7 linked regions of the Homo sapiens genome follow. The protein of the gene in region 4 interacts with the protein of the main gene of each other region in a pairwise test. Each region holds a gene or a part of one and is shown on either strand. Other genes may lie near its edges. The genes, in order: QSER1, OSTC, CRLS1, F2RL1, TMEM161A, ATP2C1 and CNN3.

Region 1 (4,225 bases), on a different chromosome or scaffold from region 4:
CAAGAAACTGCCACAAAGGGGAACAAAAACATTCAACTGATATGTGCATTATGAAAAAGCTTTTTAAAATGGTATAAAAATATAAATAAGCTTCTGAAGTGTAGAATATTTAGACTTACAAGGCATATTTCAGATTTGCCATTTTTGATATAACTGAAATCAAAGGGAATATTTGCACAGTTTGAGGAATAAAATGAGGTATAATTCAGAAGTGTAACTCTGTACAGATGGCCTGATCCCAATACAAGATGTTAACAAAGCAGGCTGGCGGGGGAGGGGGGTAAACCTGCATTTTCTATGCTGTATTTTAGCTGATTCCCCCCACCGCTTATTTTTTAAAAAAGCAGGGGGAGAGGGCATGAGGGGTAATATTTAAGATTCAATAACTTCTAGTAAACAGAAAATAAATCTCCTTTAGATTATGTGTGCCAAGTGAATCTACTTACTGTTTTCAAGTGTGTTTGGGAAGTCATTTCGTGTTACTCTGATAAATAACATTTGGAAAATATGACAAGTAGATTTTAGTTTCTTGCCTCAGAAGTATTCTACTAAAAGAAGTAACTAGGTAGTATTTCAGTTCCATTTACCTAATAAATATTTTTCATTTAAAAGATAAAAAATGCGGCACAAATACCTATCATGCTGTTCAATGATGAGAAAGTAATTTTCATTTGTAAATTATCCTAGTCAATGCAAAAAGCTACTTGAAAAAGATAGTCAAATTACCATCAGCAAGAAATAATGGGTGAAGTGCCAAACGTCTTTCATGAAACTCCTTAAAATGGCTTACTTGTATGTAATACAAAATTATGGCTATTTCTGAAAGGTTTCAGCATTTAATTACTTAGCTCCAAATTGGCACATCACATTATTTTTGTTAACTCCCAAGTCTTGAAAACAAAGGGCCTAAAATTTTCTGAGAAAGCTTATATTCCTATTCTTGAAGCAAATTTTTCTCATTCTTTCACAATCGTCCCAATGGACAATCTAAGACAAAGACCAGCTACCCTTCACACTTATTTGCTCAATCATGAACGTAGAACTTTCGTAAAAACAAAGAAGATAACCTGGAACACGGTAATGTATAAACTTAAAACAAAAGTTCACTTCTGTCGTGAAAAATAATGAAGAAATCTGATGAGATCATAAAGCCACGAAGCTTCCTGTTGGTAGCTGAGGATGAAGTCATTAGCAACCCAGGATTCCCTGGTCCATGTAATCAGAAGCTGCACCTACCAGATTCTGTATTGTTCGGGAGAGGTGGCTTTAAAACACCCCGCTCACCAATTCTCCAAACCAGACCACGCCTTCCAGTTATCATTCAAATGGGACCGTTTCACAGTGTGGCACTACTACACATTTCCCGCGAGCTTAAATATCAAGTAGGAGTCAAAATTTTAGATTCCCTTGGTCATGCAAGATGAACTCTTGAACCCCACGCTACATAATGCACCCGGACCTTAAAGGCCGAGATGGAGAAGCATGCTTTGGTTCTTCAACCTTTACGGCCTTCACTACCCCCACCCCAACCCCCGCCCCATTTCTTCCCAACTCTCAGTCACCCCGAGGCATAGAAGGCAAAGAAAGATTCCTTACTTCCTGCTGTTGTTAAAAGGGGAGGAAACCTAAGAGCAACTTTGAACGCGTGGAAGAAAAATCGCCTAAATCTTGGCCACCAGCGCAAACATATGTCACCCGGCCCTGGAGCCGCGTTCGCGCCCTGCCGGGCCCCCTCTTCTGCCCTGCGCCCCGGGGATTCTCCCGTAGCCCAGCCCTCCCGGGCCCCCCAGTGTCTCCGGGACGCGGTTCCGCGACTCTTCCTCTCCCGCCTCCGCAACCCTCACACGCCGGAGTCCCCAAGACCGCATTGTCGGCCACCCAGGTTCCAATACAATGGATCGCCACTGCCCCAAACTCTCCGGCGCCCCCTTCGGACCCCCGGCGCCAATCCTGGGTCTCACAGATCCCGAGTTCAGCCACGAGCCCAAACTTCACCATGTGAGAGCCCAGGACCCAAGAGGTGACGGAGCCCCACGACTCCCGCCCAGCTATTCCTTCACCCGCCGTCCCCAGGCGCGAATCCTGCACCGGGCGCCCCCACCTACCCGCGACCACCCCGTAGGAGTCATCAGCCGCCTCCCCCGAGCTGGCCGAGGGCGAGCGGAGGGCTCCCCGCCCGGCCCAGACCTCTGGGCGGCGCTGCAACCGAGCGAAGGCCCCAAACGCATCCCCGGCCTTTCCTGGTCCACCGCGACCCCGCCGCCCACCCTCCCTACCTGGCCTTGAGGCTGGGGCTGCTGCCGCTACTGCAGCTGCCACTGCTGCAGCTGCTGCTGGCGGCGGCGGCGGCGGCTCGGGGTTCGTACGCCCAGGCTGGGGCGGGGGGCTGCGCAGCGGCGCTGGCGGGGACGGGGGCGGCGGGGGGCGCGGGCGGCGGCGGCGGCGGCGGCTCGGTGAAGCCCGAGGTCGCGTAGTTCCTGTCCATCGTGGGGGTGGCGTAGGGAGGGCGGGCAGCAGCGGGGGATCCTCCAGGGCTCCGTGTGACGGGGGCGGGCAGGGAGAGGGGGCGGGGGAGGAAGAGGGGGCGGCGGCGGTGGAGGGAGCTGCCCCCTCACATGGCCCCGGCGAGCAGGCGGGAGAAGGGCGCGCTGGCGAGTCTGGGCCGCAAAGACCCGGGCCGCGGCGGGCGGCGAGGCCCCAGCTGGGCGTCAGGGAAGCGGAGGCACCCGCGGCCGGGACTCGCGGCGACGGCGGCGGCGGCGGCGGCCGCTGCGCCCCATGTTGGTGGATTTCCCAGGATGCACCTCCCGCCCCCCTCCGCCCCGCGGCCTTGCCCCGCCTCCCCTCTGAGCCCCGCGCTTGCCGCTCGCGGGGCTGGCGGGCGGCCGCGAGGCCTCCGCCACCGCAGGACGCTTCGCGAGGGACAGTTGGGGCCGAGAAGGCGCGGGTCCTGCGGGGCCCGGCCGACTTCAGGGACTCCGAGGGGCGCCCGCCAGCCGGAGCCCGCGAACCGCAGACTTCCCGCCTTCCGCAGCCCGGAAGGGAGCTGTCCGCACTCGCCGCGGCCCGCGTGGGAAGGGACCGCGCCTGGCTATCGCCCCGCGCGGGGGAGGGGAAGTGGAGTGGAACCCAGCGTAGGGCGCTGCTCAGGGGTAGCCGGGTCAACGCTTTGCTTGGAGCTCACTATTTGACCCTTCGGGTTATTTTGAGGGACTCCAGTACTCAGTTCCCTGATCGCGATTTCTTTCTCTGCGCCCCAATCCAGAAACAGCTGAGCGAGCTCTTTTGCAGTTCCGCTTACTCCCTCCCCAAAGCTTGCTGGGCTAGAGGACCCTTTTCCTGCTGTTAGGGGAGATTTATATTCAAAGAGATTCAAATTCAAACGTATTATTTTCCAATCCTCGCTGAAAGGGCCTTTCCCAAGGGCTCTTATTAACTGTCCCCACCCCCACCTTGGGGATTTTTCTCGCTCTGGGTTTCAGAATCTTCTATCCCAAGATAGATAACCACCTCTTCATTGATTAATCCAACTACCATCTGGATGACTTTAATTACAATAAATTTAAACTCACCATGCACTCTGATGTTGAGGGGTTTTGTTTGAGACTTGGAACTTCAGCAGGACTCTCTCCCCAAACATTTCCTATCTGATCTCCAAGCTGCTTGGTGTGCGGTAATTTAATGACTATTTGCGGTTCTTCTGTTGCATAGCAGAGTTGTATTTCTTGTAATAACTCACAAGTATTGAAACTAGGGAATCGTACAAATCATCGTTTGGCCCTTGGGCCATAAATTTAAAGGTTAAAATAACAGTAAAATTTCTATTTAATGACCACCTCCTTTTAAAAATCAATATTGGTTTAACACCTATTATGTGCTTAGCACAGAAATCTATCCCTCAAGATAAGCATAACATAAAGGTTTAAGCAAATCAGCCGTAGTGAAAGACCTAATAAACTTGATACGCTATCTCTGATGACCATTGAAAAAGTTTAAACTTTGGTAATAATCTGGTGTTGGATCTGCTATGCCTTGCGAGATTAATTTTGTTCTGGAAGATCCTGTTTTCCTCCTGGCGCCTACATCCTTTTGTTCCTATTCATTCCTTTTTGCAAGTCTTTCTGCACCTGTGATGCTTGGAGCCTGGTCCCCGGGTGGGGAAGCAAGGAAGTGAGTAGTCGTTATTTACACATGAATTCAAACGTGTAGGCACAGCGACTTTGCC
Region 2 (3,500 bases), on a different chromosome or scaffold from region 4:
TAAGAGGGTTGTAAAAAATAATCACTTTATTTGATATTATAGTTGTAGATATGGAATATATTTTAATGAAAAACTAAAAAGAAAATGCCACTCAACATCATTGGTATAGCAATAGGCCAGCAGGAAAAAAAATTCTGTGATAAACTTGTCTCTTTAATACCAAGAAGAAATTCTAGTCCAAGCTTCAATACGCTTCCTGTTTTTTCACTAGATATTTCTTTTACTGCTGCTCTTCATTCTTTTCCACATTTCATATTAGAGGATTGGTACAGCCTTTAAAACTTCATTGACAGGAGCAAATCCAGTATCCACTGATTTCTTCTCAAAGGCACTCTAACCCATCAGATAGCCCCTGCAGAAATATAATTATAAGCACAAAAAGTGAAAAGAATTGTTTTTATATTCTCTTATTATCATAGTATTTCAAAATGCCAAAACAAATTTTATGATATATCAAATAACAATCCAAAAATATAATTGCGTGATTCTTTATTATGGTCCTTATTTCATATTTTGCCCCCCTCACCCCAATATACAAATAAATTACTGAGCCTCAGTTCTACTATCCTTCCCTCTTTTTCCTTTTTTTTTTTGAGATGGAGTTTTGCTCTTGTCACCCAGGCTGGAGTGCAATGGTGTGATCTCAGCTCACTGCAACCTCCGCCTCCCGGGTTCAAGTGGTTCTCCTGCCTCAGCCTCCCAAGTAGCTGGGATTACAGGCGCGTGCCACCACACCTGGCTAACTTTTGTATTTTTATAGAGACAGGTTTTCACCATGTTGGCCAGGTTGGTCTGGAACTCCTGACTTCAGGTGATCCGCCTGCCTTGGCCTTCCAAAGTGCTGGGATTACACGCGTGAAGCCCGGCAAAGTTTTTTTTTTTTTTTTGAGATGGAGTTTTGCTCTTGTTGCCCAGGCTGGAGTGCAATGGTGCAATCTCGGCTCACTGCAACCTCTGCCTCCTGGGTTCAAGCGATTCTCCTGCCTCAGCCTCCCAAGTAGCTGGGATTACAGGTGACCGCCACCACGCCCAGCTAACTTTTTCTATTTTTAGTAGAGACGGGGTTTCACCATCTTGGCCAGGCTGGTCTCAAATGCCCGACCTCAGTTAATCCATCCACCTCGGCCTCCCAAAGTGCTGGGATTACAGGTGTGAGCCACCGCGCCTGGCCCTTCCCTCTTAAAGTTACAAAGCAGTATGCCAAACAACACAGAATAAGAAAAGGAAGTAAAGAAAAGAAAATGATATCTAAAAGTTAAAGTTAAGAGTCAGAATCAATCTATTTTAGGCTCTCAGAAGTGCAACAAAATCAAAATTTTTTTTATGTAAAGAAACTGGTTTGGATTTCTAAAAACTCTAATATTACCAGAAGAGAAGTGGGAGAATCAGAAGCTATTCAGGACTGGGAGGTGAGCCTCTGAGACTTCAAAAAAGTGTGCACAAACATCTGCCCCTGAACCTCTAATACTTCAGGAAATGTCTGGATAACAGTTAGGAGCTTTAGCTGTACCTGCTGGTAAGGTCAAACTTCATGCTGGTCAAACAGGAGATCCTTTTATTAAATGTGCAAGTTAGGCCCTGAAATCCCCTTTAAATTAAAGCATTAAATCTGGTGTTATAAAAGTTCCAAACCTTTCCTTTGGCAATAAACCCTTAAAGTCTATTATTAATTAAGAATCTACAGGATCAGGAAAAAAAAATGGAAAAATTATGTACAAGTATCCACATTAAGAAAGGGTTGGGCTGGGCATGGTAGCTCATGCCTATAATCCCAGCACTTTGGGAAGCCGAGGTAGGTGGAGCACCAGGTCAGGAGTTCGAGACCAGCCTAGCCAACATGGTGAAAACCCACCTCTACTAAAACTACAAAAATTAGCTGGGCGTGGTGACAGACGCCTGTAATCTCAGCTACTTAGGAGGCTGAGGCAGGAGAATTGCTTGAACCCAGGAGGTGGAGGTTGCAGTGAGCCAAGATTGTGCCATTGCACTCCAGCCTGGGCAAACAGAGTGAAACTCCATCTCAAAAAAAAAAAAAAGAAAAAACAAAACAAAACAAAACAAAACACAAAACATCCTGGCTAACATGGTGAAACCCCGTGCTCCAGCCTGGGCAACAGTGCAAGAATCCGTCTCAAAAAAAAAAAAAAAAAAAAGGTTTACAACACCTTATACTCACTGACGGCTTCAGAACGCCTCTTCTTTTGACCCTGCTTCTACCACTTACTGCATGAGCCTGGCAAACCTCACTCAGTTTCCTCATCTGTAAAATGGAGTTACCTCAAAGGGTTTTAAGGATTATAAGAGAATCTACTCATATAGTAATTGCTACTCGTAGTTACATGCACTTCACAAATGTTAGCTGCTATTTTTAGAGTCCCAAGTTTCTTCACTGGTAACGTAAGATTTAAAAACTACTTGACAATACTGAGGTCTCCTCCAGTGCTTGGCACACAGCAAACACTCAAAAATGTGACTTCCCTCCCTTTCAGCTTCTGAACTCACTTGACTCCCTGTATGATTAGACTTATGTTCAGCCAATGCAATCAACCTAGAACTCACACACTCTTCTTTCTGCTGTATCAGCCTGGCCAATCCACACACTCTGAGTAAAGAGAACTTTCATCTAACACAACCACCTTGACAACCAGATACTTCTCACCTCCTCCCAAATCCAAAACTGAACAAAAATTTAAAAATAAAAAGGTTTGGCTGGGCACAGTGGCTCACGCCTGTAATCCCAGCACTTTGGGAGGCTGAGGCAGGCGGATCACGAGGTCAAGAGATTGAAACCATCCTGGCCAACACAGTGAAACCCCGTCTCTACTAAAAATACAAAAATTACCTGGGTGTGGTAGTGCATGCCTGTAGTCCCAGCTACTCAGGACGCCGAGGCAGGAGAATCACTTGAACCTGGGAGGCGGAGATTGCAGTGAACCGAGATCATGCCACCGCACTCCAGCCTGGCAACAGAGCCAGACTCCGTCCCCCACAAAAAAAAAAAAATTAAAAATTAAAAGGTTCTTTGGATATATACATTGAATTTAAAGACCTCACATAAATTTGCTACTATAATGCCTGATGTGTCACAAAAAGGATACTTTAAAACATAAGCTTCACAAGAAAAAAAAAAAAGGTTCAAGAAGATTTTAAGCAAGCATCCACTAATATCTGCACTCTGTAGTAGAAGTTACCCAACAGCTAGCTTACACTATGAAACAAGAGTACTAAAGACTCATTAGGAGTAACTTCTTGTAATTTGCATATACCTATATGTGAATATACACTTTGTACTCTATCTCTTAATATAGCTATATATTATGGTATCCTTCCTTGTAACTAGTGGGTGACCCATGCTTGTCAACCTATATTTAGATAGAAAAGAATATTTAAATAGACATGTCCTGTTCAAAGCTGCCAAACTTAAAATAGTTTTACCTTAAGGACAATTTGGGAGATACTAAGAAATATTATAATGTTATAACGATACCATGTTAGAAAAA
Region 3 (3,500 bases), on a different chromosome or scaffold from region 4:
AGAATACTAAGAATTCTGTTGCCTATCCACATAGAAGTATCAGTTGGGCAGTTTAGTAGTTTGGAGTTGGAGGAAGTCATCGTTACAGAGAGAGAAATTTGGGAGCTGTCAGATATAGATGGTTGGATCTGGGTAAAATCATCCAGGCTGAGGTAACAGGAATGAAGGGTCAGAGAAATGAGCAACAAGTAAAGCACCAGAAAAGAAGCCAGTCAGGAACCCTGGGAAGGAATAGCTGGCGAGGAAGAAAATTAGGCAGTGAGATTTCCCAGAAAGTGGAGAAAGTGCTTCAGTTGTGTCGAGGTCAGGTACTCTAAAAATGCGGAGTTCCTTGGTGACCTTTATGAGCCTCACCTCTGGAGGGGTGGGGACGATTGGAGTGGGTCGATGAACACATGTGAGATGGTAATGACATTGGACGTTCCTTTGAAGCAGTTTTGCTTTGTAGGGGGATAGAGAAATAGGATCACAGAAGGGTCTTTTAAAAAGATATATACTGGGGAATTATATCTATGTGTATATAGATAGATAGATATAAAATCCTATATATAAAAATATATGCTGGAGTATATGTATATACTGGGGAATTTTTGTTTGGCCTTTTTTTTTTTTTTTTTGAGATAAATCTCGTGTTGCCCAGGTTGGCCTTGAACTCCTGGCTTCAAACGATCCTCCCACCTCAGCCTTCCAAGTAGCTGGGACTATAGGTGTGCCACTGTGCCCAGTGAATTTTTGTTGTTAGTTAACTGATTAATTAAATGATCAGGTAGAAAGATTAAATGAAAGGGAGAGATGGATGATGCAAGGGGAGATGGGGAAGAAGGGAGGCAGGTCACAGAAGGTGAGAGGGCATGGGAACGGATGAAGGAAGGCAGAGAGAATGAATGGATGCAGGTAGGTGGGGGATTTGATGATGGGAATATGAGGATGGGCTGACTACGGTTTTCTTTTTCCTTAAGGAAAATACAGACATGACCATGAGCGAGAGGGATGGAGTTAGGTCTGAGGTGAGAGCAGAGACAGTGTGGAAGAGACAGTGTGAAAAGAGAGGGTAAATATGGTAAACAAGTGTGGGATTGCTAGGCAGTATTGGGTGCCCATGGGAGATTTGTGGTCATCAGTTTGAAGTGAGACCAGTCTTCCCATTTGTGTGTTTTCCTTAAGCACTATTCAGCTCTTAGGTGCAGGCCCAGAGTACATGGAGAGTTGCTTTTAAGCAGTGTTGAAGGAGAGTGGAGTGAAGGGGAGTTACAGATGTTTATAAAGGAATGATGTTGATGACCTTGGAATCTAGTGTGGATTAGAGGAATAGTGAAGATGAGAGGGTGATGATGGCGAAAAAGTGAAAGGTTAAGTTCCCTGAGGTCAGAAACTGAACTAAACCTGATCTTCCAAGGTCCCAGCTCCCCAGGCTAGGTACTTTTCTGTTCGTATGCTTAAGAAGGAAATAGATTTTTTCAGTTGCAATAGCAATAGCTAGTAACTGCTTTTTTTGAGGATTTACTAAGTGCTGAGTGCTGAACAAGTATTAATCACATTGTGTGCTGAAGACAACCACCCCTTTGAGGTAGGTAATTTATCTCTGTTTTACAGATGAGGAAACTAAGGCTTAGTCAGGCCAAATAACTTATCCAAGATCACACAGCTACTAAGTGGCAGAGCCAGGACTTGAACAGCTTCTGTTCTGCTACAAAGACCACATTTTTTTTTACCACGGTCCTGGACTACCGCTGTCTCCTCTAACTCATTGGAATACTTGAGATATGGACAACTTACTTGTTCTTTAAAATGAACCATGATTAATTGCGTCTAAATTAATCTTTTTTCCCCTTAGAAATAGTATTAGAGAACTCAAACATTTGTTGAAACTTGAAGTTAAATGAGTAAAAGCCAGGAAGGGACTTGGATAAACCAGAAAATATCTGCCTTGTTTAATGTGAATAGACAGTACTTGATTTCAGTCCATTTTGTGGCCCCAGAGTGGCCAGACCGCTCCCTTCTCAAGTTAGGATGGAGACCTGGGTTTTTATGGGAAGAATTGAATACTTACATGTTGATAACTAATTACAGTTTTTAAAAGCTCTGATAGGTCAAACAGAACCAGCTTACAGGCTCCATTTGGCCCACTAGCAACTAGATGTGACTTATGCTTTAAATGGTTTATTTTTAATCACAATAATATAAAAATAAATAATTTAAGTATCAGAATTTTAACTAGGCCAGGTAGAGAGGATTGAGTTTTCTATTCAAATGTAGGTAATGCAGATACAGTCAGAGTATGGAATAAACAGTGGTATTGAGCAAAATGAGTTGAAAAACAGAAAAATGGTAAGTTTTAACAGAGTTGGATTATATTATCCTAGTCCAGGCTCTGCCGTTCATGCTTTCTTTGAGTTTTCTTTGGGTTCTTTATAGCTGTAAATACATCACTAACCGTATCTCTAAATGTGTATTTGGGTTCATCCCACAAAGGGGCCTTGTGAAAATACCGAGAAATAACCAGAAGGACTTGAGGGGGAAAGAAAATAAATGTGCATTTATTTTAAGACCAGTTGCTAATTTAAAAGCGAAATGTATACCAGCAAAAGAATGAGAATGTTTGGGGGTAAGAAACAGAAGACATTTTGTTAACATTTTATGAGAGTATAATTGTTATTCTGGTATATCTTAAGCTTCAGAATATCTGCTTTGTTCCTGTTATGACATTTATATATATAAAAAAAAACTTCTATTTTCAGTTGGATGGATTTATTGCTCGAAACTGGGCCAATCAAAGATCAGCTTTGGGAAGTGCTCTTGATCCACTTGCTGATAAAATACTTATCAGTATCTTATATGTTAGCTTGACCTATGCAGATCTTATTCCAGGTAAGAACGCGTCATGCGTACTTTTGAATAGCACAGGGAAGAATGACATTAGTCAGCTTAGGATTTCTCTTGAGAGACAAATAATTTTTGTTCCAAAAATATAGTTTTCAACTTTAAACTGTTTCCCTAATTTTAAACTGTTGAACTGTTTTGTCAAACTACTTGTGGATTTTAGAATTTATGTCCTTGTTTTACTAGTAAAATCAGTTGCTTTCCTAGTAAGATTGTTTAAAATTAAAATTGAATAAATATTTCACAGTGCCAATTCATATTACTCTGAAATTTTTTGGTGATACATTATGTATTTTTAGTGCCTAGCTTTTCAAAAGCAATTTAGTTTTCCTACGTTTATTATCTTTATTAATATCGTTTAATCATAAGTGAGAACTCTGAAATTCTGAAGATGTCTATAAAATTTCACATTATGTAGACCCTATTATGCAATTTTTAAATCATATATATAGTTTGTACATTATATGAATACTTTTTCTGATAAGATTTCATGATTTTTTTGCTTTGTATTTTGCATGTGCTTTTCTGATTGTTCATTTTCTTCTTCAGTCGTATTTCTCAGTTTTTCTCCCTCAGACCAAGTTAAACTGTTTTTTTCCCAAGAGCTAGGAATCATATCT
Region 4 (3,393 bases):
TGCTTGAACCTGGGAGACGGAGGTTGCAGTGAACCAAGATCGCACCACTGCACTCCAGCCTGGGCGACAGAGTAAGACTCCATCTCAAAAAAAAAAACAAGTTATTTTTATGGTTTGTTTGAATCAGGATTGAAACAAGGTACACACATTATATGACTGATATGTCTTTTAAATCTTCTACTCTATAAATTTCACCTCCACACCTTTTTTTTACCTTTGTTCTTCTTCTTCTTCTTTTTTTTTTTTTTGAAGAGATGGCATTGTGCTATGTTGCCCTGGCTGGTCTTGAACTCCTGGTCTCAATCAATCCTCCTGCTTTGGCCTCTCAAAGTGCTGGGTATTGAAGGCATGAGGCACTGTGCCTGGCCCTCTTTCTTATTTTTTGCCTTATAATTTATATTTTGTAAAAAACAGGTCCTTTATCCTGTAGCAGTTCCCAGAGTCTCAATTTTACTGACTACATTTGTGGTGTTGTTTAACACTTTGCCCCCTTCATTTCCATTAATTTGGTGTTGGATAATTTCCACAATAACTGCACCAGTTGCTCAGTCTATAACACTAATCAAGCACTGAATCCAACACCAAATTAATTTCCAGTATGTTACTTTCTAATTGTTACATACATTGTCATTCTAAGTTAAGTGGCCTGTGAAATCAGTGTTAAAGAATAATAACTGGCTTTTTATAATAATGGAATAGAATACAATAGAAAGTATCAGTGCACCCTATGTAATAAGAATAATTATTATTTTGTGAAACGTTTTTCCACCATGGATATGTGTATTGGGAACTGGGTTAGTATGTGGAATATGGTTCTTAGGGGTTATGGTCAAATATTTGAAGAACACTGTAATATGTAGGAATTTTTTTTAAATTTAAAAACAACATATGTTCTTTTTGAAGAATTATATAAAAAAAATAGAACCACTAGAAATAGGACTATCCTAAGCATATTAGTTTCTTGTGGCTACCATAGCAAATTGCCATAAACTGATGATGTAAAACAACACATTTATTCTGTCAGTTCTGGAGACCAGAAGTCTGAAATCAAGGAATTGGGGCCACAAGCCCTCCAAAAGCTCTAAGGGAGAGTCCATTCCTTGCCTTTTCCAGCTTGCAGTGGCTGCTGGCATTTCTTGGCATTCTTGGCCTGTTCCTTGATGTGACTCCAATCTCTGCCTCCATTCTCATGTCACTCACTCCTCTGGCTTCTCCTTTTCTGCGTGTTGCAGATCTCTTTCTGCTTTTCTCTCTGTTTTGTTGTTTGATACAGACTTTAACTCTGTCGCCCAGGCTGGAGTGCAGTGGCGCAATCTTGGCTCACTGCAACCTCCGCCTCCCAGGTTCAAGCAATTCTCCTGCCTCAGCCTCCCAAGTAGCTAGAACTACAGGCGCCTGCCACCACGCCCGGCTAATTTTTGTATTTTTAGTAGAGACAGGGTTTCACTATGTTGGCCAGGCTTGTCTTGAACTTCTGACCTCGTGATCCACCCACCTCAGCCTCCCAAAGTGCTGGGATTACAGGCGTGAGACACCACGCCAGGCCTCTGCCTTTATCTTAGAAACGACACTTGTCATTGGATTTAGGGCCCGCCTAGATAACCCAGGGAGATCTTCTTATCTTAGGATCCTTAATTCTATCTGCAAAGACATTTTTGCTAAATAATGTTCACAGAGTCTGGCGATTAGGACATAGACTTCTCTTTTGGGGGCACCACCTTTCAACCCACTACACTAAGTGAAAAGTGAAATATTGATCTCTACATCCCCCAACACTCCACCCAGGCTAGCATCCCAAATAGGGAAGCATTAAGATGTGAAAAATTCTGCGGAACATTAGTGTAAAGCTTCTAGTGGAAAAATGATGACCAAGCATAACATTATGAGATAAGAGCATGAGTAGGTTTAATATCCCCCTGGTATACGGCAGTGCAAGTATTGCCCTGTCTTCTCTGCTTGGTGAGGCCTACTTTTCCCCAGAATTAGAGTAAAATTATTCAGTATCCTTATATTGTCCTTACTTACTCCTGCAGGTTCATGAATACTTAGGGGCAGAATGTAGGGAGGACATGCCATTCATTTCTTTGTGGTTTTTAGGTCAACTTCATAATATAAGAGAGGGATAATAAGTTAGCTTGTCATGCTACATGCTTGAAAGTCTGTCATCAGTACAGCCACCTATCCAGGCCAGACGGTTTCCCTGCCAGTTGGCCTCCATGGGACATTCTCCAGGAAACCAGCACATGAGCAGGGAAAATCCCTGCCATTGTTGAGGCTATCGTTGTGGGTGAAAAGGGAATGTCCCTTGTGGTCCTGGAATCTCCCTGTGGCAAGCTCTGAATAGGGTATGATGAATTGAATAGGCCAGGAAGGATCCTGGCTCAGGGCTAGAGTGGGATAGAAGGCCATTATGAAGTGAGAAATTAGAAAACTGGTGTCAGGATGGGGATCGCTATTTTACACACTTGAGAATTTAGAAAGGAATTACTGCACATTCCTAAACTGATTTTTTTTTTTTTTTTTTGACTGAGGCTCGCTCTGTCACCCAGGCTGAAGTGCAGTGGCATGATCTTGGATCACTGCAACCTCCACTTCCGGGGTTCAAGCGATTCTTCTGCCTCAGCCTCCCAAGTAGCTGGGATTACAGGCGCCTGCGCCTGGCTAATTTTTGTATTTTTAACAGAGTCAGGGTTTCGCCATGTTAGCCAGGCTGGTCTGAAACTCCTGACCTCAGGTGATCCACCTGCCTTAGCCTCCCAAAGTGCTGAGATTACACGCATGAGCCACCATGCCCAGCCAAACCAAATTTTACTAATTGATAAATCAAAGGACTGTTGTTGGTCATGTGATAAGAATAGCTAGAGCTGGGCGTGATGTCTCACACCTGTAATTCCAGCACTTTGGGAGGCCAAGATGGGAGGATCACTTGAAGCCAGGAGTTCGAGACCAGCTTAGTCAACATAGCAAGACCCCATCTCTAAAAAAAAAAAAAATAATAAGTAAAATAAAAAGAATAGCTGGGGACTAATGAGTGTGGACAGTTTGTAAAAATAAATTGAAATATTGTTAGTCTTCTTTATATTCCTAGAAATCGATGCTCCACATGCATCCCACAACTCCTTACAACTCCCCGATACAAAAATACTCACTGTAAGAAAAAAACCCATAAAACCAAACTAAACCAGACAATAGAAATCCCAATAATCTCATTACACAAAGAAAAGCCCCTATAAGCATTTTGTGTAATCCTCTAATAGTACATTTCTGTTTTCATCTAAAGTACTTTCATTTGAGGCTGGGCTCAGTGGCTCACACTTGTATCTCACCACTTTGGGAGGCTGAGGCAGGAGAATCTTAAGGCCAGGAGTTTGAGAACAGCCTGGGCAACATAGT
Region 5 (3,500 bases), on a different chromosome or scaffold from region 4:
AATTTTAAAAAATATATACTCCAGGCATGGTGGCTCATGCTTGTAATCCCAGCACTTTGGGAAGCTGAGGCAGGCGGATCACCTGAGGTCTGGAGTTCAAGACCAGCCTGGCCAACATGGTGAAACCCCGTCTCTACTAAAAATACAAAAATTAGCCAGGCGCGGTGGCTCATGCCTGTAATCCCAGCACTTTGGGAGGCCGAGGCAGGTGGATCATCTGAGGTCAGGAGTTCAAGACCAGCCTGACCAACATTGAGAAACCCCTTCTCTACTAAAAGTACAAAAATTAGCCGGGGGTGGTGGTGCATACCTGTAATCCCAGCTACTCAGGAGCCTGAGGCAGGAGAATTGCTTGAACCCGGGAGGTGGAGGTTGCAGTGAGCCAAGATCATGCTATTGCACTCCAGCCTGGGTGACAAGAGCGAAACTACATCCCCCCAAAAAATTGTGTGTGTGTGTGTGTGTGTGTGTATATATATATATATGTGTGTGTGTGTATGTATGTACATGTATATATATTTGTTGTTGTTGTTGAGACAGGATCTTGCTTTGTTGCCTAGGCTGGTCCTGATTGGCTTCAAGTGATTCTCCTGCCTTGGCCTCCCAAAGAGAGCAAATACATGACTTTGGGGACCCAAGTCTGAGGAAGCACAGAAAGAATGCTACTCCTGTGACTTTTGGAGTGGGAAACCTGTCTTAAAATCCACTGGTTCCCCAGATTCCCATGCTTTTTTGTTTTTTGTTTTGTTTTGTTTTTTGAGATGGAGTTTTACTCTTGTTGCCCAGGCTGGAGTGCAGTGGCATGATTTAGGCTCACTACAACCTCTGTCTCCCGGGTTCAAGTGATTCTCCTGCCTCAGCCTCCCAAGTAGCTGGGATTACAGGCATGCGCCACCATGCCTGACTAATTTTTGTATTTTTAGTAGAGACTGGGTTTCACCATGTTGGTCAGGGCTGGTCTCAAACTCCTGACCTCAGGTGATCTACCTGTCTCAGCCTCCCAAAGTGCTGGGATTACAGGCATGAGCCACTGCGCCTGGCCTGTTGTTGTTGTTTGAGACAAGATATCCCTCTGTCGTGCAGGCTGGAGTGCAGTGGTGCAATCAGGGCTCACTGCAGCTTCAAACTCCTGGGCTCAAGCGATCCTCCCACCTCAGGCTCCCCAGTAGCTGGGACCACAGGGGCTACCACAAAATTATTTTTTGTAGAGATGGGGGTCTCACTATGTTACCCAGGCTGCTCTTGAACTCCTGGGCTCAAGTGATCCTCCTGCCTTGGCCTCCCAAAGTGCTGGGATTACAGGCATGAGCCACTGTGTCTGGCCCCCATGCTGCATTTTGACAGCAGATTGGAGATGAAGCCCTTCTATATCTGATTGCTTTTCCAAGGGATGTGAAGTAGGTGAGGTGGGTGAAAGAGGCAGGGTCACCCAGGGCGGGAGGCTGTACAGACACGGTGGCCTGATGAGGCCATCTCCCACTCAACGGGAACCCCCAGCCCACATCCTGATCTGAGATCCAGCACCCCAAAACCGAACTCCTCTAGGTCATCCCCAAGGCCTATTTGTGCAGCAGTGCTTGTTCCCTGGAGTTCTGGGGTCCCAGACGGAGTGTGGTGAAATGGGCAGAGTGGGGCAGTGGCACCTGAGGCCTCCTTAGCTCCAGCCTCCAGCAAGATGTTCCTGACAGTGACACGGCTGTACTTCAGCGCCGAGGAGGGGGGTGAGCGCTCTGTCTGCCTCACCTTTGCCTTCCTCTTCCTGCTGCTGGCCATGCTGGTGCAAGTGGTGCGGGAGGAGACCCTCGAGCTGGGCCTGGAGCCTGGTAAGTGCAGCCCCCAACGTGGGGCCACCGCAGCTGTCACTCCCTCATGTAATCTGACCAAGATGGTTTAACTGGCTCCGTGTCCAGCACGAGTAGGCAAAGGAGTGGGCTCCTGGGGTGAAGGCAGTCCCCATTAGTGACCATCTCAGCTCCTGAACCTTGTTGGGCTTTGGGGAAGACAGGACATTGCCTCTCTCACTGTCTCTGATGGACACTCATGGCTATAGCTCTTTTTTTTTCTTTTTTTTTTGAGATGGAGTTTCACTTTTGTCACCCAGGCAGGAGTTCAGTGGCATGATCTTGGCTCACTGCAACCTCTGCCTCCTGCATTCAAGTGATTCTCCTGCCTCAGCCTCCCAAGCTGGGATTATGGGTGTGCACCACCACGCCTGGCTAATTTTTGTATTTTTAGTAAAGATGGGGTTTCACCATGTTGGCCAGGCTGGTCTCAAACTCCTGACCTCAGGTGATCCACCCACCTCAGCCTCCCCAAGTGCTGGGATTACAGGTATGAGCCACTGTGTGTGGCCTCTTTTTTCATTTTTTTAAAAAATTATTTATTTATTTATTTTTATTGAAACAGGGTCTCACTATGTTGCCCAGGCTGGTCTCACACTCCTGAGCTCAAGCAGTCTGCCCGCCTCAGCCTCCCAAATTGTTGTTATTACAGGTGTGAGCCACCGTGCCTGGCCTCTTAAATGATCCTTTTAACATATAATTTGGACCTCATCACTTCTCTGCCCGGCACCACACTCCCCCGGTCTTAGGAGAAAGACCATAGCCCTCACCATGGCCCACATGACCCTGCTGACTGCTTGAGTTTTACCTTCTCCAATTCTCCCTGCCTTTCAGTTTTTAAAATTATATATGTTTGATATATACAAAGAAGATGTGTATGTCAATTATAAAGCAAAATAATCATATGAGTACCTGCAAACCTACCCCTCAAATAATAAGTAGGTGGGGTAGTGACTGCACCAATCTCCCAAGGGGGCGGCAGTAAGGTTTAAATGAATCAAGATCCATGGATAGGGCTTGATTTTTGCCAACCTAGCCCTCGTCACATGGAATGATGCCCTCTGTGGCCTTAACATGCATGTCTCTGATTACCAGGGAAGTTGAGCACCTTTTCCTGTTTATTCATGATTCATGTCTCTTCTGTGAAATTTTTGTGAAATACCTGTTCACATTGTTGCCCATCTTTGAATCTTTTTTCTCTTTGAATTTTTTTTCATTGTGGTAAAATAGACAAAACATAAAATTCACCATCTTAACCATTTTTAAATGTGCAGCTCAGTGGCATTAAGTATATTTAGATGGCCGAGCATGGTGGCTCATGCCTGTAATCCCAGCACTTTGGGAGGCTCAGGCAAGCAGATCACCTGAGGTCGGGAGTTCAAGACCAGCCTGATCAACATGGAGAAACCCTGTCTCTACTAAAAATACAAAATTAGTCGGGCGTGGTGACACATGCCTGTAATCCCAGCTACTTGGATGGCTGAGGCAGGAGAATTGCTTGAACCCAGGAAGCGGAGGTTGTGGTGAGCCAAGATCGAGCCATTGTGCTCCAGCCTGAGCAACAAGAGTGAAACTCCGTCTCAAAAAAAAAAAAAAAAAAAAAATGTAGGCCAGGTGTGGTGGCTCACATGTGTAATCCCAGCACTTTGGGAGGCCAAG
Region 6 (3,500 bases), on a different chromosome or scaffold from region 4:
GGTTGAAGTTTTTTCCATTCTGCTTGGTATTTAGTGAATCCTTTCAATCTATAAAGACTTACTTTTTGCCTTAGCTTGAGAAAATACTTGTGTGTCATATCTTATGTAATTTTTGAAACTCCAATTAGTTACAAGTGGTATTTCCTGAAATTATTCCTCTTCATCATTTTATCTCATTCTAAGACTTTTTACTCTTTTTGGGGGGAGACCTCTTTGAATTTATATTACACCCCTACAATTGAATTTTTAATTTCAACAATCATAATCTTAATTTCTAAAAACTCTTTTTGTTCTCTGATCCTTTTCTACAACAATTTATCTCATGGATGCAGTTTCTTCACAAGTCTCTGAAAATACAAACACTTGGTTTTTAAATTTGTCATCATTTCTTCAATGTTTCGTTTTCCTCTGAAATTGATTATTCAATTTCTATATTGTGAACTTTCTCTTTCATGTTGCTAGTTTTCAATTTGACAATCCTTAATTGTATATTTATATATAAAAAGGCAATAATGCATTAGTAATTCCAGACATCTAGTATGGGTTTTCTTCATTACCATATACATACATTTTCATTTTTCTAAGGATAATTTTAATATATGACTTCTGAACTATTTATGTAGCGATGTTATACTCTTATGGGCTCCATGTAATACTGATCTCCATAATAAAACGTAAGCTATGTCCATTAGAGAAATAAAAGAGGCAAAAGAGACTCCAATTATAAAGTATTGAGACTTACCTTACACTAATAGTAAACATTTCCAGGATATCTTTTCCCAGTAACCAGCCAACCAACATGATGATTCCTGAAAGATAATTAAATAGTTATTTTTCCCTTTTACATACAATCACCTAGAAGGAACAGAACAAGCTGAAGGAATCTAAAACGTCCCTTGACAAAAAAGGGAAAGCATATCAGATCACAATTAGAAGATTTTATAAAAATCCATTAAACAGGGGAGGTTAAAGTTAACACTGCTTAATGTGAATGCTGTGCATACTCACATACGTACATGTGTGCACACACACACCACACATGCACACACACACACAGTTTTACTTTTGGTTGACACTGCTCCTACCATCCCTTAAAGCAGTAATATTTTATTATTTTTTTAAAAATTACCAGTATGTTCATACAATGAAAAAAAGAAGGTGGCAGCAAACATATAGGTCTTCTATTTAATATCAAATATGCAAAATTAAACCCTAAAACTTTATTTTCCATAACACAATATCCAGACACTTCTCAGCAAATCCATACTACACACAAAGGGACACTTACGACTTGGCTCAAAAAGTGATGTGCCTTACGTTAAGCACCTACAACTGCATTAACATCTAAAAATCACTACTTTTATGGCATTTCAAAAATTTAAAAATCAATTAAACCAATACTCCTTGCTTTAACCTTTTATCTTTGAAAAGAATAGGGGGAAAGGGGCGCACAAGCAGGTTTGTGAGGAAAAAGCAAACAGATTCACGAGAGGTTTGATAAAATAAGCTATCTCAAGACTGCAAATCAATATGAACATTTAAGACAAGTTTTTTTTTTCATCTTTATATAACTAAAGAATAATTATCCAAATAGCAACCTTCTAAGATCCTATCCCAAATACTATCATGATGAAAGAAATTATGTCCAAAGGATTATACCAGGGGTCAGCAAACTATAATCTGTGGGTCTCCTGTCTGCTTAGGTAAATGAAATTTGTTGGAACATAGCCACACTCATTTATTTACATATTTTCTATGATTGCTTTCATGCTAATGGCAAAGTAAAGTATTTCCAACAGAGACCATATGGACTAAAATATTTACTATCTAGTTCTTTACAAAAAACAAAAAAAAACAATTGCTGACCCCTGATCTAGCTCTTGACCTTGGCAAGAAAAATTATGTCCAATGTAATATACTAACATATAACCAGAGATCGTAAAGTTGAAACATATTTATTACTAAATTTGAAATGGTTTATGGTATAGTGCTAATAGAAACTACAAAGATTTAATTGGCTAGAATGTCATTCGATCTATCAAATTCACTATAAAATTTCTAGAAAATGAGCAATAATCAAACGGAAGAAGTTATGAGGGCATACACACCAGTAAAACAAAAATAACTAAGATAACTTCCTACCTTCTACTTTATGTTTACAATGAAGATAGATGGATAAACAGAATTACTATTTACAAAGTTATTTCAACTAATATTGTATTAACAGAAATATTGCTTTAAAATTGCATTAGTCCTGTAATCCCTGCACTTTGGGAGGCTGAGGTGGGCAATCACATGAGTTCAGGAGTTTGAGACCAGCCTGGCCAATGTGGTAAAATCCCGTCCCTATTAAAAATACAATAAAAAAATTAGCCAGGTGTGGTGGTGCACACCTGTAATCCCAGCTACTCGGGAGGCTGAGGCAGGGAAATCACTTGAACCCCAGGAGGTGGAGGTTACAGTCAGCCGGGATTGCGCCATTGCACTTCAGCCTGAGCAACAAGAATGAGACTCCATCTCAAATAAAAAAATTGTATTACTGACTTTGAAATACTAAACTAGCTGGAATAATTAACACGGTAAGAAAATTAAAGGAGAAAAGACTCCAAAATTAATGCAAGTGCTTAATGTGTGATAAAAACGTGACTTCAATCCAATGAATAAAGACTGGATTACAGAATTAATGGGATAATTAACTTGAGTAAAAAAGTTAAAACTCTGCCTTAAGCCATGTACTAAAATAAATTTTAAATAAAATAGTAAAATGTCAAAAATAAAAAACTATACAACAATGTTTTAATAAATGTTCTTATAAACATGAGGTTGGGAAAATCTTTAGGAACAGAACAAAACCAACTTAATTGCAGAGATTATCAATAGGAGGGTGATAACAGAATCTCAAGGAAAAGGGGATGTTTTAACCCATTTGTGTCTGAGGTTGCAATTTTTTGAATTTTTGCAACCAGACCTTGGCAATGACCTTGAGCAGTAGGATATAAATAAGTCCCACATGCTTAGCATTCCAATAATGGAACACTAGGCATAAATGGTTAATTACATATATTGTCCTCTTACCAAGTTTATTCCACATGCCTCAAAGGCAACTTAAACGGGAAAAAAAAACTTATACAACAAAAAGATTGATAATCTAGTCATATAAAAAGCTTTTATCAATCTAAGACTCAAGACACAAGAAAAGGGACAAAAGAAATCGTTGGCAGGTCATAAAATGAAATAAAAATGATCAACCCACACATGACAAAGCATTCGGTTTCCCTAATAATGAACTGTGAAATCAAATAATGAGAACTCTTTTATTTACAGTTGAAGTTAATGACAATACTTAAAGCTGGCCAAAAATTTAAAAGTTACATGGATCCCCTTTGACTAAATAATTTTATTTCTAAGAATTTTTCCTTAAAAAAGAGAGGTATTTACCAGAAGACACCACACTAAAGAAGTATTTATATGACCAAAAAAAAACCCTCAAAAAATCCTAA
Region 7 (3,500 bases), on a different chromosome or scaffold from region 4:
TTGGCTGTTACCTGAGGCCAGTTCAGTGAGGACTCGTTGACCTTCTTCACTGAGCCTGGCTGTAGCTTGTTTATAAGTCTGAAAAGAAAAATATGAGAGACATCTTATTTACTGGCACACAAAAACAAGGATTGAAATATCAAGTTGCTCCCTTTAGCATCAGTAAGGGAAAGCATTAAAGATATCTGTAGAATATCAAGGTCTGACACCCTGGGCTGAGAAGGAGAGTGAGAGAGAAGGCTGTGGAAAGAACTGGAAGAGCAGAAACAGATTCTGGAGGGCTGTAACTCACTCGCAGAGGATGATGCCATCCTTTAAGCCCAGCTGGAAGTTGGGGCCAATGCTCATGCCTGTCACCTCTTCTATCCAATTGCGAAGATCTTCTTCTGCCTGATGATCATACTTGGAAGCAATCTGAAATACAGGTTAACTCACTTTAGAAGAATTTCACAAAAGCATCAGAAACTGCCGACTCACAACGCGCTCTGCTTTCACTAGCCATTAAGACCACAGCTGTGAAGTGTAGTAAATGACACTCAATAGATCTCAATGGCAAACTTAACCGTTACAACTTCAGTAACTAATAACAAATTTTTGGTGAAGACCGTGTCATACAAAATTTTGAACAGACCATGGAGAGGCTGGGACTGACAAGGAGAGAACATCAATCAAGAGACATCAGATTTCATGATCCACAGGAAGTGACAAGGATTTAATGGTATGTTACAATATGGCACTCAAACTTTAAGGTTTAAGTCATTAATCACCCTATTCCAAAAAAAGCTGGGGAAAGGATTCTGACACATGCAGTTATTTTACAGAGTATCTCACCTGGCCAATACATAACATTCCAATAGTTTTGTTGACTGGAAAGTTCTGGTATTTGCCTTCTATTCAGCCAAATACACACTATATACTAAACACACACACACACACTTTCCTCAGTACTAATTACTGTACAATATTTAAATTCTGTTTATGTAGTCTCTATCCTATTAGACTTCTTACAGGCAGGAAAAGCATCTAGTTCATTCAGATTCTTAGTATCTAGAATTGAACCTGACACCCAAACATGTGATAAAACTAAAAGAAAGTTTAACTTTTTACTTGCAGAATTCAAAAATAAAGGCCAACTTACCAACACAAATGCTATGCTATTATACATGGTAAAACTATTAAACATAAGTTTTGAAAGATCCCTTTTTAATAAGACCAGACCTCAATTTAAAATAATTGAAAAAATAAAATTTAAACAAAATATTGTGAAAAAAATCACATGCCCAAGTTCTTAAGCTATCCCTTGTCCTGGAGTCCCCTTAAAGTGGCTGGTCAATCAGGGTTATGGAGAACACAGCTGAGGCAGGCATAGTGGCTCACACCTGTAATCTCGGCACTTTGGGACTGAGCTGGGTGGATCTCTTGAGTCAGGAGTTCGAGACTAGCCTGCACAACATTGAGAGACCTTGTCTCTACTAAAAATAAAAAATTCAGCTGGGCTTGACGATGCATGCCTGTCATCCCAGTGACTTGGAAGGCTGAGGTAGGAAGATCACTTGAGCCCACGAGATCGAGGCTACAGTGAGCCATGATCACACCACTGCACTCCAGCCTGGGCAGCAGAGTGAGACCCTGTCTCCCGCCCCACTGCCAAAAAAAAACCCACAGCTGGGAAGAAGGAAAGATCCAGTATCATTTGTCTTCTCATTCAGCACTGGTGAAAATGCCAAGTATACATAGGAAATGCTCAGGAGATAGAGATCATGAGCTTGGGAATCAATTACATCATTGGAAATGGGAATGAAGGTAGAAATGTCTGCTGTGTCCATAAGACATAGGGAGGTTTAATCATTGGAAGAAATGAAATGGCATCTTGACATTTTAGTCACAAAGAAGTCCCACAAGTTCCAGTCTACACCACTCACGGAGGAACCAAGCAGAACTGTGGGAAATGCCCTAGGTTCATAGTGCCAGAGCATATAGGACTGTGGGCTGCATTCAGGTCCTTTCCAAGGGAGAGAGCCTGATCACCAGGATCAGGACAGACATTTACGAACCTGGCCAGCTTACCTGTAAGTCACCCAACAGTGAAAACCAACGCTGAGTCTTAAAAAACAGATTCAAAGCGTACACTTGATCACAGTTCCTTTTTGTGTCCATCAAAAGCCACAACAGCCTTTTAACTTCTCAAGGTAGGAAAAACATCCCGTTTCCCAGGTCAAGTAGGTGGAAATGTCTACATTCCAGGTCCCCCTCTTGAAGGCTCACCATGCACCTGAGCCTGAGAGATCCCCTGGCACATAATCAGACCACTCCTGGGCTGTTTTCAGGGCCTCTTTTCCCCTCCCCGCCACGCCAAGGCATGAAGCTTCTGCTTTGACTGAGAGAGGGCAAATGATTTCACTAAATTACTGTGGCATTAGGGAGATGGCAGTTCTTGATCCTTTGCACCCTTTACCCAAGTTGGAGAAATGGCTCTACAGCTTTGACAGAATAATGGATAATTGATTTGAACTGTAGATTTACTTAACCAGAATTACAAAAGAAAATCCAGTAAGTTTATATTTTCATATTAAGACGACTAACTTTGCAGTGTTTCATGGATCAAGTCTGGCCTGGAGGTTAGTTTATAAAAGACAGTCTTAAATACAATTTGTTTTCCAGGCTAGTCTCAAACTCCTGGTCTCATGCAATCCTCCCGCATCAGCCTCCCAAAGTGCTGAGATTACAGGCATGAGCCACCACCCCCTGCCTCCATTACTCCTATTATACCTCAGATAAATATTCTTGGATAATATATCTCCTCCAACACATCAAATAAACCCATTTTTATGGCACTTTTAGAAAATAAAACAAAAATTGGCAGACACATTTTTTAAAAATATTTTTTTTTGAGATGGAGTCTTGCTCTGTCACCCAGGCTGGAGTGCAGTGGCGTGAACTCAGCTCACTGCAACCTCCACCTCCCGAGTTCAAGCAATTCTCCTGCCTCGGCCTCCCGAATAGCTAGGATTACAGTCACACACCACCACGCCACGCTAATTTTCATGTTTTTAGCAGAGACGGGGTTTCACCATGTTGGCCAGCCTGGTCTCGAACTCCTGACCTCAGGTGATCCGCCTGCCTCGGCCTCCCAAAGTGCTGAGATTAAAGGCGTGAGCCACTGCGTCCAGCCGATAGACACGTTTAAGTCTTGACTATATTTTTACACTGGGGTCTTGTTCTGGGTGCCTAGAAAAATAAATTCTCACTATATAAACTGGAGGTGGTGGTATGAAAGGGGATAGGCAAAGAAGAAAAGGAGAAAAGAGTACTCCTCAAGCATTAACTATGGAAAGCAAATACTAATTGTAAGGTGATTTTTTTTTTCCCCAAAAGTGAGGGCGTTCTCAACTAGGAGATATATTTTGATCAATCTGAAGAAAAACATAATATGCTAGGGTGAGAGGAGTTCTGCCTTGGCGCCATGCCTGGCTCCATCTATCTTTGCTATGGGCCTGGGT

What was found.
Region 1: the proteins of F2RL1 (region 4) and QSER1 interact in a two-hybrid assay, tested with the Homo sapiens proteins (one large-scale study listed by BioGRID and IntAct).
Region 2: the proteins of F2RL1 (region 4) and OSTC interact in a two-hybrid assay, tested with the Homo sapiens proteins (one large-scale study listed by BioGRID and IntAct).
Region 3: the proteins of F2RL1 (region 4) and CRLS1 interact in a two-hybrid assay, tested with the Homo sapiens proteins (one large-scale study listed by BioGRID and IntAct).
Region 5: the proteins of F2RL1 (region 4) and TMEM161A interact in a two-hybrid assay, tested with the Homo sapiens proteins (one large-scale study listed by BioGRID and IntAct).
Region 6: the proteins of F2RL1 (region 4) and ATP2C1 interact in a two-hybrid assay, tested with the Homo sapiens proteins (one large-scale study listed by BioGRID and IntAct).
Region 7: the proteins of F2RL1 (region 4) and CNN3 interact in a two-hybrid assay, tested with the Homo sapiens proteins (one large-scale study listed by BioGRID and IntAct).

What each region holds. Positions count from the first base shown.
Region 1 is NC_000011.10:32,891,386-32,895,610, reverse strand, and holds the start of QSER1 (glutamine and serine-rich protein 1), read right to left. Parts: upstream 2,801-4,225; 5' UTR 2,486-2,800; coding exon 2,277-2,485; intron 1-2,276. UniProt on the Homo sapiens protein: Plays an essential role in the protection and maintenance of transcriptional and developmental programs.
Region 2 is NC_000004.12:108,664,099-108,667,598, reverse strand, and holds part of OSTC (oligosaccharyltransferase complex subunit OSTC), read right to left. Parts: intron 353-3,500; coding exon 334-352; 3' UTR 1-333. UniProt on the Homo sapiens protein: Subunit of STT3A-containing oligosaccharyl transferase (OST-A) complex that catalyzes the initial transfer of a defined glycan (Glc(3)Man(9)GlcNAc(2) in eukaryotes) from the lipid carrier dolichol-pyrophosphate to an asparagine residue within an Asn-X-Ser/Thr consensus motif in nascent polypeptide chains, the first step in protein N-glycosylation.
Region 3 is NC_000020.11:6,012,623-6,016,122, forward strand, and holds part of CRLS1 (cardiolipin synthase (CMP-forming)), read left to right. Parts: intron 1-2,738; coding exon 2,739-2,868; intron 2,869-3,500. UniProt on the Homo sapiens protein: Catalyzes the synthesis of cardiolipin (CL) (diphosphatidylglycerol) by specifically transferring a phosphatidyl group from CDP-diacylglycerol to phosphatidylglycerol (PG).
Region 4 is NC_000005.10:76,829,030-76,832,422, forward strand, and holds part of F2RL1 (proteinase-activated receptor 2 preproprotein), read left to right. Parts: intron 1-3,393. UniProt on the Homo sapiens protein: Receptor for trypsin and trypsin-like enzymes coupled to G proteins.
Region 5 is NC_000019.10:19,128,479-19,131,978, reverse strand, and holds part of TMEM161A (transmembrane protein 161A isoform 1 precursor), read left to right. Parts: intron 1-1,671; coding exon 1,672-1,823; intron 1,824-3,500. UniProt on the Homo sapiens protein: May play a role in protection against oxidative stress. Overexpression leads to reduced levels of oxidant-induced DNA damage and apoptosis.
Region 6 is NC_000003.12:130,956,584-130,960,083, reverse strand, and holds part of ATP2C1 (calcium-transporting ATPase type 2C member 1), read right to left. Parts: intron 810-3,500; coding exon 743-809; intron 1-742. UniProt on the Homo sapiens protein: ATP-driven pump that supplies the Golgi apparatus with Ca(2+) and Mn(2+) ions, both essential cofactors for processing and trafficking of newly synthesized proteins in the secretory pathway.
Region 7 is NC_000001.11:94,903,111-94,906,610, forward strand, and holds part of CNN3 (calponin-3), read right to left. Parts: intron 415-3,500; coding exon 293-414; intron 79-292; coding exon 12-78; intron 1-11. UniProt on the Homo sapiens protein: Thin filament-associated protein that is implicated in the regulation and modulation of smooth muscle contraction. It is capable of binding to actin, calmodulin and tropomyosin. The interaction of calponin with actin inhibits the actomyosin Mg-ATPase activity.